2 separate regions of the Homo sapiens genome follow, and region 2 is linked to region 1. Evidence: fine-mapped expression QTL. Tissue or cell type: whole blood. Region 1 holds a variant in brackets; the other region holds the start of a gene. All regions are shown on one strand. Distances are from middle to middle.

Region 1 (6,645 bases):
ACAGTATCGGATGAAAAGAATGGGGCATATGGAGTGATAAACTAGTCTAGGTACTGGACTAATTAGGAAAAAACATGAAATCCAGCCTACAAAAAGACTTTGTTTCTCATTAAATTTCATAATATAAGAAGAATGAAATTTAGCTGTATTTATTAAAAATGTCCTTTTAAAAAGCTTAGAAAATGTTATCTGTCAAATTTTAGGGATTTTCTTCTATTGCTATTTTGAGAAGGTATCTTAATGTTAAGATGTTCAGATTTCTATTAAGAACAAATGACCTCATCCCGCTTCACATTCTACCTCCCAGAGACACATTTTTACAGGCTACCAATTAGTTTATTCTCTGAAAAAGGAATAGAGATTAAGTCCTTAAAATTAGTATTAATTGAATATAAGTGTAAAATCACCAAATTTCCTATTTTTAACTTTCTAAGACAGTAATAAAGTTTTAAAGTACATTATTCCTGGCTGGGTGTGGTGGCTCACGTCTGTAATCCCAGCACTTTGGGAAGCTGAGGCGGGCAGATCACCTGAGATGAGGAGTTTGAGACTCGCCTGGCCAACATGGCGAAACCCAGTCTCTACAAAAATATAAAAATTAGCCGGGTGTGGTGGCACACACCCATAATCCCAGCTACCAGGGAGGCTGAGGCACAAGAATCACTTGAACCCAGGAGGCAGAGGTTGCGGTGAGCAGAGATCCCACCACTGCATTCCAGCCTGTCCAACAAAGCAAGACTCTGTCTCAAAATAAATAAGTACATTATTCCTGATTATAACTATTTCCTCAATTCTAAGATTTTTTTTTTTTTTGCATTTCAGTATTTCTGAAATCAGATGATCTAAAAATTAATTAATGAAGTATTATTTCTCTTCTCCCCCTGAAAAGCTATGATAAAATCAATGATGTATTTTATAATTGATGGTATCTTAACATTAAGGCAATATAGTGATGAGAATAACTGTTGGCCTTCAGAACTCAATTTTTCAGTAGTCATAGTCCCTCAGGTGTCTTAGTTTCAGAGGAGATTTCAATAGATTTTATCATGGAATGGTGAACACCATAAAGTCAGGCAATGTCCCTATCCTTGCTTGAATCAGAGAGGGGAACTCTCACAACGGTTTTACAAACTTCATATCTCACCCAGTCACCTCCAAATGTGCCCCTCCTATCATAGCCCTCCATGTAACAAAAGGGAGAAGAGCTTTCTGATGCTTATGAAGTCCAGGGGTATAACTCATCTTTTGACATCAACTGATGTACACCACTGCCACACTGATCTGGGCCACACTTGAGCATTCTACACCAGGCATCAGTCCTAACTTACCTGGAATTTAAATACCAGATAGAGTGCAGTTCCTCCACCCTTACTTACAGGGCTCTGCCTAACCCCAAACAAAGATGCCTTCAAATCTGCTCTACAGCAGTTGTTTGGAAACAAGAGAAAAGTCATTATGCAAATATAAGTCATTCAAAACAATTCAGTCTTAAGGAGACAATAACTAGCACAGAAACGGGGAGATGAACTGTTTGTTCTGGGAGTTCAAATTACTGCCTTCAATGCTTTGTTATCAGGCCAAAAGGTAATTACCATTAGACCCAGTAACAATCTTCATTGTTAACCTAACACACCAATGACAGAGGAGAACTGAGAGCCAAGCACTTGGGTCTCATTTAATTTAATCACAAAACAAACCTCAGGTATAGCTGTTATTCTCCCCATTATAATAATGATAATAATGAAGAAACCGGGGCTTTTAGAGAGTGACCTGGCCAAGATCATACAGCCAGGAAATATTAAGGGTAGGAATGAGGAGTTTAGTTTGGGCGTTTAATTACCAAACTATCCTGGCTTCTGCTACGAACTACTTTTACAAAGACAGAATCTTACTGCATAGGTTAAACGACACTGGAATGACAGAGCAAGTCGTAGTTCTAAACATCTCACTCATTCAACAAGCATTTAAGTGATTCTAGACCGTCAGAGGACAACTGCAAAAAGTACTTGAAGAATAAATATTTAATAATAATGTAATTATAATTATAATCTGTATATCTAAACAGTGCCTTTGTAAAAACCCTTTCCATCATCTTCAAATTCAGTCTAAAAATAATTGTACGCTATACTTTTCAAGTGGGGTTTAAACTATTGTTTCATATTTAACATAAAATATTTTCCTATTTAAATTAACATACTTTTATGTTCACGGTAAACAAACTGCATAGGTTTTCACTTTCATTTTCTTCTGACATCTTCTGCAAAAGAATGGTCTGCCCATTTTTTGGATAAAAAGGCTAGAATAATGTGACCGGAGCTGGGTGAGGTGGCTCATGCCTGTAATCCCAGCACTTTGGGAGGCCAAGGCAGGCAAATCACTTGAGGCCAGGAGTTCGAGACCAGCCTGGCCAACATGGTGAAACCCCGTCTCTACTAAAAATACAAAAATTAGCCAGTCGTGGTGGCATGTGCCTATAATTCCAGCTACTCAGGAGGCTAAGGCAGGAGAATTGCTTGAACCCGGGAGGCAGAGGTTGCAGTGAGCTGAGGTTGTGCCATTGCACTCTAGCCTGGGAGACAGAGCAAGACTCCATCTCAAAAAAAATGAAAACATAAAAATAGAACAATGTGACTGGGAGAGACTTAAAGTGAGGAAAAATGAATGCTGAAAGAACTAGTAAACTGGCTGAAGATGGAACAACTCCCCA[T/A]GTCTCCAGAGAGGCAGATAAGGGACTGTAAACCAGCAAATGCCACCTGCCTGTTATCTAGCTCAGAAAGGTGCACACCTCTGGAAGCAGCTGAATTTAAGTCCAGTGTGGCACTTTCAGAAAATGGCATCAAAGGTTGGACCATAAATCTTTCTTATTCTCCAGTCACTGGACATTTAAGAGCCAAGATATTGATGGGCTCTTTCCCTCCTTTTCTTTCTCCTTGTAGCAGATGTATGATTCATGGATTGTCCTTTCGTGGTCTCCATTTTCATCTTATTACTTTTTCTTTGCTTCTGCTTTCTGACAGCTCTGGAAAACAAGGTGCTAAATTATTTCACAGAATGAGCACAGTGAATTATGTAATTATGTTGAAGTTTAATTAACTAGCTAACCAAATAAGAAAATAGAAGAAGGGAAAGAATCTACTGTATTGCAAGCATAAATCCTCAGTCTCCTAACCATAACAACAAGGGAAGAGTCAGAGGCCTAACCAAGCAAAATGTTTGAGAAAAAAAAATTCTTTAAAAGATGGTTACTATGGATTTAGAACAAGCTGTCCGGGGCAAACACACCACAGAGGTAAATGCAAAGCTAGTGAGATTGGACTTTTTAAAAAAGTTTTTTGTACATCTGTATTGCTCAACTCAGCACTTCAATCTCCAAATCCTTGAATTCCGTTTTTTTTGGAGAGGAGCTGATACATGGGGCAGTCAGCAGAGACAGAAAAATGAAACAGCACAATGGAAAAAACCGAGAAGCCTTGAAAGGGCCTGTTTCCTAAGTCGTACAGATTTTCCTTTCCTCAGCGGATCTAAAAGTCCTGACAAGTGCCACGCAGGGTTATCAGCATTTTGTGGTCCTTATCTTGAAGATTAGCTTCAAAATAAACAAGCTGGAACTCACCCTCTGAAAACACTGAACCACACCAGACAAAACAGATTCTTTGTTTCTGGTGTTCTCCACACTAAGTTACAGGCGACCTGCAGCTGAGAAAATGACTGGCCCATCCATTCACTTCTCCAAGCTAGCAGAATCATGCCATGACACTCAACATATTGAGAACCAAGGAAGGGGCCAGAGCTACAACAATGCCAAACCAGGACTCCTCCCCTGATTACCCAGCAATATCAATTGTTAGGTTCACCTCTCATAAGCTTCTCCATAGGAAAAGCTTATTCTTGATCTTGTCAGGAATAAACCTGGGAAAAGAGCTTCATAAACAATGTATCCCCTAATGGGTTCAATTTATGCCTCACTTTTTGTTTACTCAGCATATGTTACCTGTTGAGAAAACAAAAATGAATGGGCATAATCTTTGACTTCAAGGAGCTGGGAGACAGAGATAAGGGGGATAGTCACCCCCTCTCTATCCCTACTTTTTTAGGTGAAAATGCTATGAAATCAATGAACACCCCATGAGGAACTTGCAGAACCAGCTTGATTCCAGGATCTGTGCTCTACTATATACTCTACTTTAAATTATTTATATATGCAAACTGCTAACCATATAATAATCACTCAATAAGTATTAGCTATTATTAGTTCCACATGACTATTATGCAGAATTTTGCTTGACAACTTTAAATTTTTTCATATTTAGATTTTGCACTATGGACTAGGGATACCTTATCAGTTCAAAATAGAACAGTCTACAGAAGGAGTAGGATTGAAAACTAAAACCAAAAAAGTCATCTTTACAGTATTATACTGATTCATGCATACTATATAAATCTATTTCCCCACTTTTTTAAAGTAGGATAATTTCTTGATAAGTGATGATTTAGCAAACTTAATGAAATATAGTATAATCTCTAATGGCAAAGTCAATGAAGCCATGTGTGCCTGTACACAAAATTTAAGTTTCTCTTTGGCTCATCCACTTATAAGCAGGACTAAAAATGAATGAACTTTCACTAGGGGATACGGTAAACAGAAACAGGAGGAAAATATTTGAAAATATTCATTTGTAATATGAATACACAAAACTTTCCAGAGATAAAGTTTTTGAATGATGATGAACTGACTATAAGTCAGTTTTATTTTGTCTTAAAATTAAATTGACCTAGTATTTGTCCTTTAAATTATAGGTATTTATGTAACTGATAAAATGAGCTTTAACCACAAGAGGGAGCCAGCATCATTCCAGTTAGCAACTAAAGAAAAATTAACACCAAGGAAAAACAAATTAATATAAGATAGCTGTAAAATGCATGAGCTGGAAAGACCTTTTATGTCACGTATGCTAAAAAGGCTGTTATTTTTCACTATTGTAAAGAAAAAAATAATTTTGCTTTGTCAATTTCACTATATATATTTTTTGAAAGCAGTAACTATTAACAGGAGTTTAGGTGTCTTCTCTGAGAAAAAAAGTAATATTATTTAAGAATTATCAGGCATCCACATCTCACAGGATTTGCTCTTGGAATTAAACCTGATAAGATCTAGTCCTGAAAGATACTAGATGATTTCCCCTAATGAAATAGTATATTAGTGCCAAACACACTAGCTGAGGCTATTTAGGAAGCAATGAAGGGCCTACAATAGAGTATCAAAATGCAAATTGTTTCCATGTAAGTTCACAGAATTAAAGGCTGAGCACGTTACTGACTACCACACAGAATCACACTGACAATGGTACAGCAATCCCAGACTAATATGATTATGAAGTTGTATTCAATTTTTGAAGGTTTATTCTAAGGAAAATATTTTATAAGATTCTTCAGGCTGGGCGTGGTGGCTCACGCCTGTAATCCCAGCACTTGGGGAGGCCAAGGCAGGCAGATCACGAGGTCAGGAGATCAAGACCATCCTGGCTAACACGGCGAAACCCCGTCTCTACTAAAAAATACAAAAAGTAAGCCGGGCATGGTGGCAGGCGCCTGTAGTCCCAGCTACTAGGGAGGCTGAGGCAGGAGAATGGCATGAACCCGGGAGGCGGAGCTTACAGTGAGCCGAGATCAGGCCACTGCACTCCAGCCTGGGCGACAGAGCAAGACTCTGTCTTTAAAAAAAAAAAAAAAAAAAAAAGATTCTTCAATAAGCTTCTTTAAGTTTTTAAAACTCTACTTTATCCTGGATTACTCAGTGGAAATAATTATTTAAAGTAGAGTAAATGTAGGAACGAGGCAGTTGTAATAGTAGCCAGAATTCAAGTGGCTAGACCACAATGGAAAAAAAAATTTTCACTGACCACAAATAAATAAAACACATGGGAAAGAATTCTAATATTACCATAAATAATTATTAAACTATCAGATATTTCTAACACAAATCAATTTTTTTAAATTACAAGTCATAGTCACATGGTAGCCCAATCTGAATTTTCATATAATGTCATATAATTTCATATAATGTCAAATTTAGCTGTCTGGTAATCTCCAATTAATAACTGTGTAACATTAGTTTTCTTAGCAATAAAGGAAGAGGACTTAATCACTATCATCCCTTTTAGTTAGGAAAAAAGTATAATCATTCAAATTAGCTCGGTTAAAATAGCAATGTTTTTCTCTTTTTGTTTTGTTTTGGGGATAACTATTCCAGAAGCAGTGCCTCTTCTAAATAAGCTATTGTCATAGGTATCCCCATACTCTGAGTTGTAATCCATAGCTCCAATCAAATATTGGTGAGAGATGTGAAAATAATCACAGGAAAAAAAGTAATAAAAATTTCAAATATTTAAGCATTAAGCATGTCTAAATATTTTTCTTAAAATTTGATACAAAGAAATAGCTTTCTCACAATTTTCCTACTGTGGAATTACTTGCTATTCAATCTGAAATGCCTTCTCCAGCCTTTCCTGCCATCATGTGTCTATATCTGATCTGTCCCTCAAAGCCTGACGTAAATATCATGTCCTTCAATAAAGCATGAACTGTCACCCCCTATAACTTTACACATGAGACGTAAAGCCAAGGAGAGGTAAAATTAACCACTTT
Region 2 (6,645 bases), 56 kb after region 1:
CTTGTATGAGGTACACAGAATTGTCAAATTCATAGCAACAAAAATAGTCGGGCACAATGGCTCATGCCTGTAACCTTCACAGTTTGGGAGGCTGAGGTGGGCGGATCCCTTGAGCCCAGTAGTTCTAGACCAGGAGTTCTGGGCAACATAGCAAGACCTTATCTCTATAAAAAATAATAATAAATTAGCTGGGTGTGGTGGCGTGTGCCTGAAGTCCCAGCTACTCATGAGGCTGAGGTGGAGGACTGGTTGAGCCCAGGAGGTTGAGGCTATAGTGAGTCGTGACAGCACCACTGCACTTCAGCCTGGGCAACACAGAGTGAGACCCTGTCTCAAAAAAAAAAAAAAAAACACACAAAAATAAATCAGAGGTTACTAGGGTTTGGGAGGAGGTAGAATGAGGAGTTACAGCATAATGGTGGCAGTTTCTGTTTGGAGTGATGAAAAAGTTTTGCGAATAGGGGCAATGGTTACACAACAACATGAATGTACTTAATGTCACTGAATTGCACACTTGAAAATGATTAAAATGGCAAATTTTATATTATATATGTAACTACAATAAAAATAAATAAATGAAAGTAAACTTAAAGGCACAGAAAAAGGCAATAACAAAAAAAATGACAGCTAAACTAATAAAGAAAAATGACACTGCATCAGTACCTTTCCACACACTGCGTTCGGGACAGGGGAGGCTGACATCTTCGGTTATGAGCTTCTCGGGCAGCAAGTCTAGCTCCTGACAACTGAAAGAGAGTACAAAACCCATTGAATAAACTGTGAAATATCTATCATCCTAGAAGAACTGGCATCACATTCTGACATCAAGAAGTCAGAAATTCAACCAACTCAACAGGCATTCATTTCAGGAGAAAACAAAACAGCGAAAACTGGGAAAATTCTAGAGCAGCTTGAAGCAATATCCAGCATATTAAAGCACTGAGAGATTAACATATGTTCACTGTAGCATCATCCACAATAGCAAAAAGGTGGACACAAACCAAGTATTCACCTTAATGGGTCTGCAGAAGAGTGGTATATAATACTGTTTTACCATAAACCTAACAAAACTGAAAATTCTCTGGTCAAAGTTTTCAGAAACTTCAACTGGAGCCGAGTTCAAGAGGATACCAAGCTCATGACTATATCTCTAAGTGCCTTCATTGGTCATCTAATAGCTGTATAAGGGATGTTCAATGCAAATGTTCAAAAAAAGTGTTTTTTAACACTTTCTGGAATGATCATGATTTCTCTTTAGTGAGCAATCTGTATCTGCCAACGGTGCTATCGACTGAATGTTTGTGCCCCCTAAAATTCGTATGTTGAAGCCTTAACCCCAATGTGATGGTATTTAAATGAGGCGCCTTTGAGAGGTAATTACGTCAAGAGGGTAGAGCCCTCAGGAATGAGATTAGTGTCCTTCTAAGACAGACAGTGCTTGCTTCCTCTCTCTGGGAAATGAGGATATAAAGAAAGGATGACCCTCTGCAAATCAGGAAGAGGACAGGACCTACACCAGACACTAGATCTGCCAGCATCTTGATCCTGGACTTCCCAGTCTCCAGAACTGTAAGAAACAGATGTCTGTCGTTTAAGCCACACAGCCTATGGTACTTCTGTTACAGAAGCCCAAGCTAACACACAGAAGATCAGCCCCACCCAATATTACCACCTCAGAGAGTCTTATGGGGAAATAAGACTTTGAGACAGTAGTTTAAGATATCAGTAATCAGAGTAAACATGAACTCATTTTCTGAACCAACAAACATAGTATCTCCATCTCTCTTAAGAGATTTATCTTGTATGTTCAGACCGCATATTTTTATTGGTTTACACGTTCTCAACAAAATTGTCACACATACCAAAAATAAAAAATAAATATCCAAAAAGTTGATATACCTTTTCATCTTCCCACTGAAAAAAATTACAGTCTTTTCTATCTCTACAGGCTGAACAGGCATAAAACCTCCGAGTTTCTTCTTTCCCTTGGGTCACCTTTACAAACAGAAGAGTGGGTCCTAGTTCCAGAATAGAAAAAAAAAAAAAAAGTGTCAAGTAATGGTCATCTACGTCAAGTTCTTAGTTTTCGCTGCCCTTAAATAAAATTTGTTTGAGCTTTAGGCACAATTTATCATAATTAAATCCATCTCTTTGGTTGGTTGTTTTTTGTTTTGTTAGGGTTTTTTGTTTTGTTTTCTTGAGACAGGGTCTCCCTCTGTCGCCCAGGCTGAAGCGCACTGGCACAATCATGGCTCACTGAGATCCTGCTTCCTAGCCTCAAGCGATTCTCCCGCCTCAGCATCCCGAGTAGCTGGGACTACAGTTGCGTGTCCCCAGCTGTTTTTCTTTTTTTGTAGACGGAGTGTCATCATTTTTGCCCGGGCTAGTCTCAAACTCCTGGGCTCAAGCGATCAGCCCGCCTCGGCCCCCCAAGTGCTGGAACTACAGGTGCACGCCACCACGCCGGCTTCTCTGTGTTTAATGAATGTTTCTTTTCTCTCTGTTACAACATTCCGGCAGTGACTACTTATAAATAATTTTTGAAAACCGGTCTCTTCAGAAAGAAAATGCTATTGTCGGTACAGTTGCTGTCTACGTTGTGAATATTACAAACCTGAGACTAAAACAAGGAAGGGACTCAGAGAATTGAGGACTTTGACATCTCTTGCGCGGTTACCCTTGCAGTGAAAACCTGAGCTTTGAGCTGGAAACGCCCACTTTCTGTAAGTTAGAGAAAAACTGAGTCTAGTTCGCAGGCAAGAATTACACTGTTTTTCTCCCTAATTTTTTATTTTTGAAGGGAGAGCAAATCAACAAATGAAATCCCCAAGTACTTGTCAACGAGAACTATTCAATACCATGCATTCTTCTCTTTGCCTACTTTTCTGCCCCTTCCCCCCAAAAGAGATGAAATAGTCCTGGAGCCAAAACCACAAGAGTGGAGACTTGCTCTGAATGTTTCTCAAGTAAGTTGAAAAACACCGCGTTCCGAGGAAGGAGTATTTTCTAGGCAGCACACTGGTGAGGGAAAGAGGCGGGTAAAAATACAGGAGCCCCAAAAGCCACTTCCAAGCCAACTCACACCCTCAGCGCCCGGCAGTTAGGCTGAGCCCAGACTCTGACCCACCGTGAGGGCACAGCGGGGCGGGGACGGCAGGATCCAAAGGAAGCACCACCTCCATTCCCGAGCTTCCCCGGCACCCTGCGCTGCCCTCTGCCTCCACGGCTTCAAACCCATTCCTGGAGGCCGCCATCTTCCCGCCGCCGTCCCGAAAGCCTCAGTACGAAACAAGAATGCTGAGAAAGAGCGCCCCCGCGACCCAAAGCGACCCACAGCGCCCCCAGGCGCTTAGGAGGAGCTTGGGCGGGGGCTGCCGCGGCGGAGGCCACGCCCCGAAACGCAGTCCCCGCCCACCTGGGGGCTGCACCTAAGCGGCCCCTAGCGGTGGGGCTCGCAGGTCACTTGCGGGACCTGTGCCATGAGCTCAGCGCATGAAGCACCCTCCTTTCTTAAGAATATAGCCAGGAAGTGAGATGATTCGAACAAAGACTTGGTTGTATTGTAGGTCCAAAAGGCAGCATTACCACCTCTGCCAAATAGCTGAAATGGCTGCAGCAGCTGTGATTTAAGGATCATTCTTTGTTTTTCAAAGTCACAGTCACTGCATCATCCTCTGTAACTTTTGGACAATGCTGAAAGTTGCACATCATAGTTGCATACTCATTGACATTTATACATAAGAAAGAAAGAAAACCGTCCTGATTTGCAGATGACATGATTGTCCACATTTTAAAAATCCGAAAGAATCTATCAGGAAAACACCTCCGGTTTAAACTGAGTTCAGCAAGGTTGCAGGATATGAGATAAACACACAAACATCAACTGGATTTCTAAATACTAGCAATGATCACAAGAACACTAAAAAATAGAATACCACTTACAATCACTCAAATAAATGAAATAGGTGTAAATCTAACGAAATATGTACAGAGCTTTATGTATGCTAAAAACTCCAAAATGCTTGATTAAAAAAAATCAAGGCTGAGTGCAGTGGCTCACACCTGTAATCCCAGCACTTTGGGGGGCCAAGGAGGGAGGATTGCTTGAATCCAGGAGTTCGAAACCAGCCCGGGCAACAAAGCGAGACGACATCTCTAAAATAAATAAGCAATTTTTAAAGTTTTTTAAAAATCAAAGAATAGCCGGGCACGGTGGCTCACGCCTATAATCCCAGAATTTTGGGAGGCCAAGGCAGGTGGATCACAAGGTCAGGAGATCGAGACCATCCTGGCTAACACCGTGAAACCCCGTCTCTACTAAAAATACTAAAAATACAAAAACAAAAAAATTAGCCAGGCGTGGTGGCGGGCACCTGTAGTCCCAGCTACTCGGGAGGCTGAGGCAGGAGAATGGCGTGAACCCGGAAGGCGGAGCTTGCAGTGAGCCGAGATTGTGCCACTGCACTCCAGCCTGGGTGACAGAGTGAGACTCCGTCTTAAAAAAAAAAAAAAAAAATCAAAGAATAAACAAATGCAGAAACATACTGCATTCATAAATCAGAAGACTCAACATAGTAAAGATATCAGTTCTCCCCAGGTTTAATGCTTATACAGGTGTAGCACAATTGCTATGAAAATCCCAGCCAGATTCTTTTTGTACATTTAGACAATATTCTGAAATTTATATGGAAAGGCAAGGGAACTAAAATAGCTAAAACAATTTTGGAAAAAGAATAATGAAGTGGGAGGAATCAGCCTACTCAATTTCAAGTCTTATAGTGCAGTAATCAAGACGCAGCCACATGTCTATGGTTGTAGACGAAATAGTCTCTTATGTTATTTAAAGAACCATTGGGGCATGTGCCTAGTTAACTTCACACATTGAGTGCTATGGTTTATTACTGTAAAAACATGGCTGTTTTTCTTTCACATTTCATGTAATGGTTTTACTCAAATTCTCCATCTGCACCAGTAGCATCTGTATCTTTGATGTACCAGTGTCCCCTTTTTCAAGTTGTCCAGAACACTTTTTCAGTGTATATTATCTGCACATGTCTGGTCTTTTGAGATAGGAAACTTTCTACAGCTATGATGATGATACTCTCGGACACTATCTCAAGACCTAACTAGCTGGGCACACATTCTCAGGACCCCTTGAGACAGTGCCCTAGGCAGAATAAAAACTAAAAGACCTAACTACCTACTCACATGAACTCTAGCACTTTTATTTACAAATTTGTTTTAGATGTACAAATTTGTGATCTTAAAAGACTTGTTTATAAAATTTGCAAGTGAATTTGTAACTCGTAAAACCAGAGTTACTGAGTCTGTATTTCCTCTTTCTCTTTTAAATAATGCTGATTCTGTGAGGCAACCTCTCTAAGCAGCCAAAACCAGTACAGATGTGCAGCCTTTACAGATAAGCTTCCCCAAACAGTAAAAACACAACAAAGATTGATCCAAATAAGGTAAATGGGAGGGCACTGCAAAATGTGAGAGCTGCTGAAGGTTTCAAACATCAGGCCATTTTGTTTGCAGAGGGATAATTTTGGGGAGAAAAAAAACTCACCTTATTTTCAGATATATATATGGTAAATAGCCTGTGTTAAATATTTACTGATGGGATTATGAATATGACCAATAAGTTATACATGTTTCATTTAATTTCCTGATAGTGTCTTTAGTCTGCACAGGAAAATGCTTGAGTAGAAACATACTGAGAGATTCAGCAAGGTTCTGAAAGGAAGCCAGAGACAGAACTGAAAATAGGTCCCTTGAGGCCTAAGCACCAGGAGAGACCTAGATTACACTTATTGTCAGGCCTCTGAGCCCAGGCTAAGCCATCATATCCCCTACGCCCTGCACGTATACATCCAGATCGCCTGAAGCAACTGAAGATCCACAAAAGTGAAAATAGCCTTAACTGATGACATTCCACCATTGTGATGTGTTTCTGCCCCACCCTAACTGATCAATGTACTTTGTAATCTCCCCCACCCTTAAGAAGGTTCTTTGTAATTCTCCCCACCCTTGAGAAGGTACTTTGTGAGATCCACCCCCTGCCCGCAACACAGTGCTCCTAACTCCACCTCCTATCCCAAAACGTATAAGAACTAATAATAATCCACCACCCTTGGCTGACTCTCTTTTCGGACTCAGCCCGCCTGCACCCAGGTGAAATAAACAGCCTTGTTGTTCACATAAAGCCTGTTTGGTGATCTCTTCACATGGATGCATGAGACACTTATCACACAGAGCGTGGTCCCAGGCTGCTAAGATTGCTGGAACTCAGCTACTCTCCCAGCCGATTGTCTGGTCAAACTGGTGAGCTTTCTTTCTTTCTTTTTTTTAATTTTTTTTGAAACAGAGTCTCACTCTGTCGCCTAGTCTGGAGTGCAGTGGAGCAGTATTGGCTCACTGCAACCGCCACCTCCCAGGTTCAGGCAGTTCTCCTGCCTCAGCCTCCCAAGTAGCTGGGATTACAGGCACATGCCACCATGCCCAGTTAATTTTTTTTTTTTTTTTTTAGTGGAGATGGGCTTTTACCATGCTGGCCAGGCTGGTCTCGAACTCCTGACCTCGTGATCCACCCGCCTCGGCCTCCCAAAGTGCTGGGATTACAGGCGTGAGCCACCGCGCCTGGGC

Evidence for each region. PIP is the estimated chance that this variant, and not a neighbour inherited with it, causes the effect.
Region 2: ZCCHC4 starts here. The variant in region 1 is fine-mapped to the expression of ZCCHC4 in whole blood (TOPMed, PIP above 0.99).

Annotation. Positions count from the first base shown.
Region 1 is chr4:25,365,403-25,372,047 of GRCh38, reverse strand. ZCCHC4 (zinc finger CCHC-type containing 4) reads right to left here. Exons shown (of 13, transcript NM_024936.3): 13 at 1,665-3,019. The coding sequence ends at 2,884. Among named protein-coding and RNA genes, the nearest start is that of ANAPC4, 8.5 kb to the left of the region's middle. The variant T/A (reference allele first, on the strand shown) is at 2,708.
Region 2 is chr4:25,309,419-25,316,063 of GRCh38, reverse strand. It overlaps ZCCHC4 (zinc finger CCHC-type containing 4), which reads right to left and starts at 3,290. Exons shown (of 13, transcript NM_024936.3): 1 at 3,128-3,290; 2 at 1,900-2,018; 3 at 664-746. The coding sequence starts at 3,254. RefSeq lists enhancers at 3,172-3,231, 2,760-3,636, 5,224-5,363, 5,984-6,043 and silencers at 3,230-3,434, 3,442-3,511.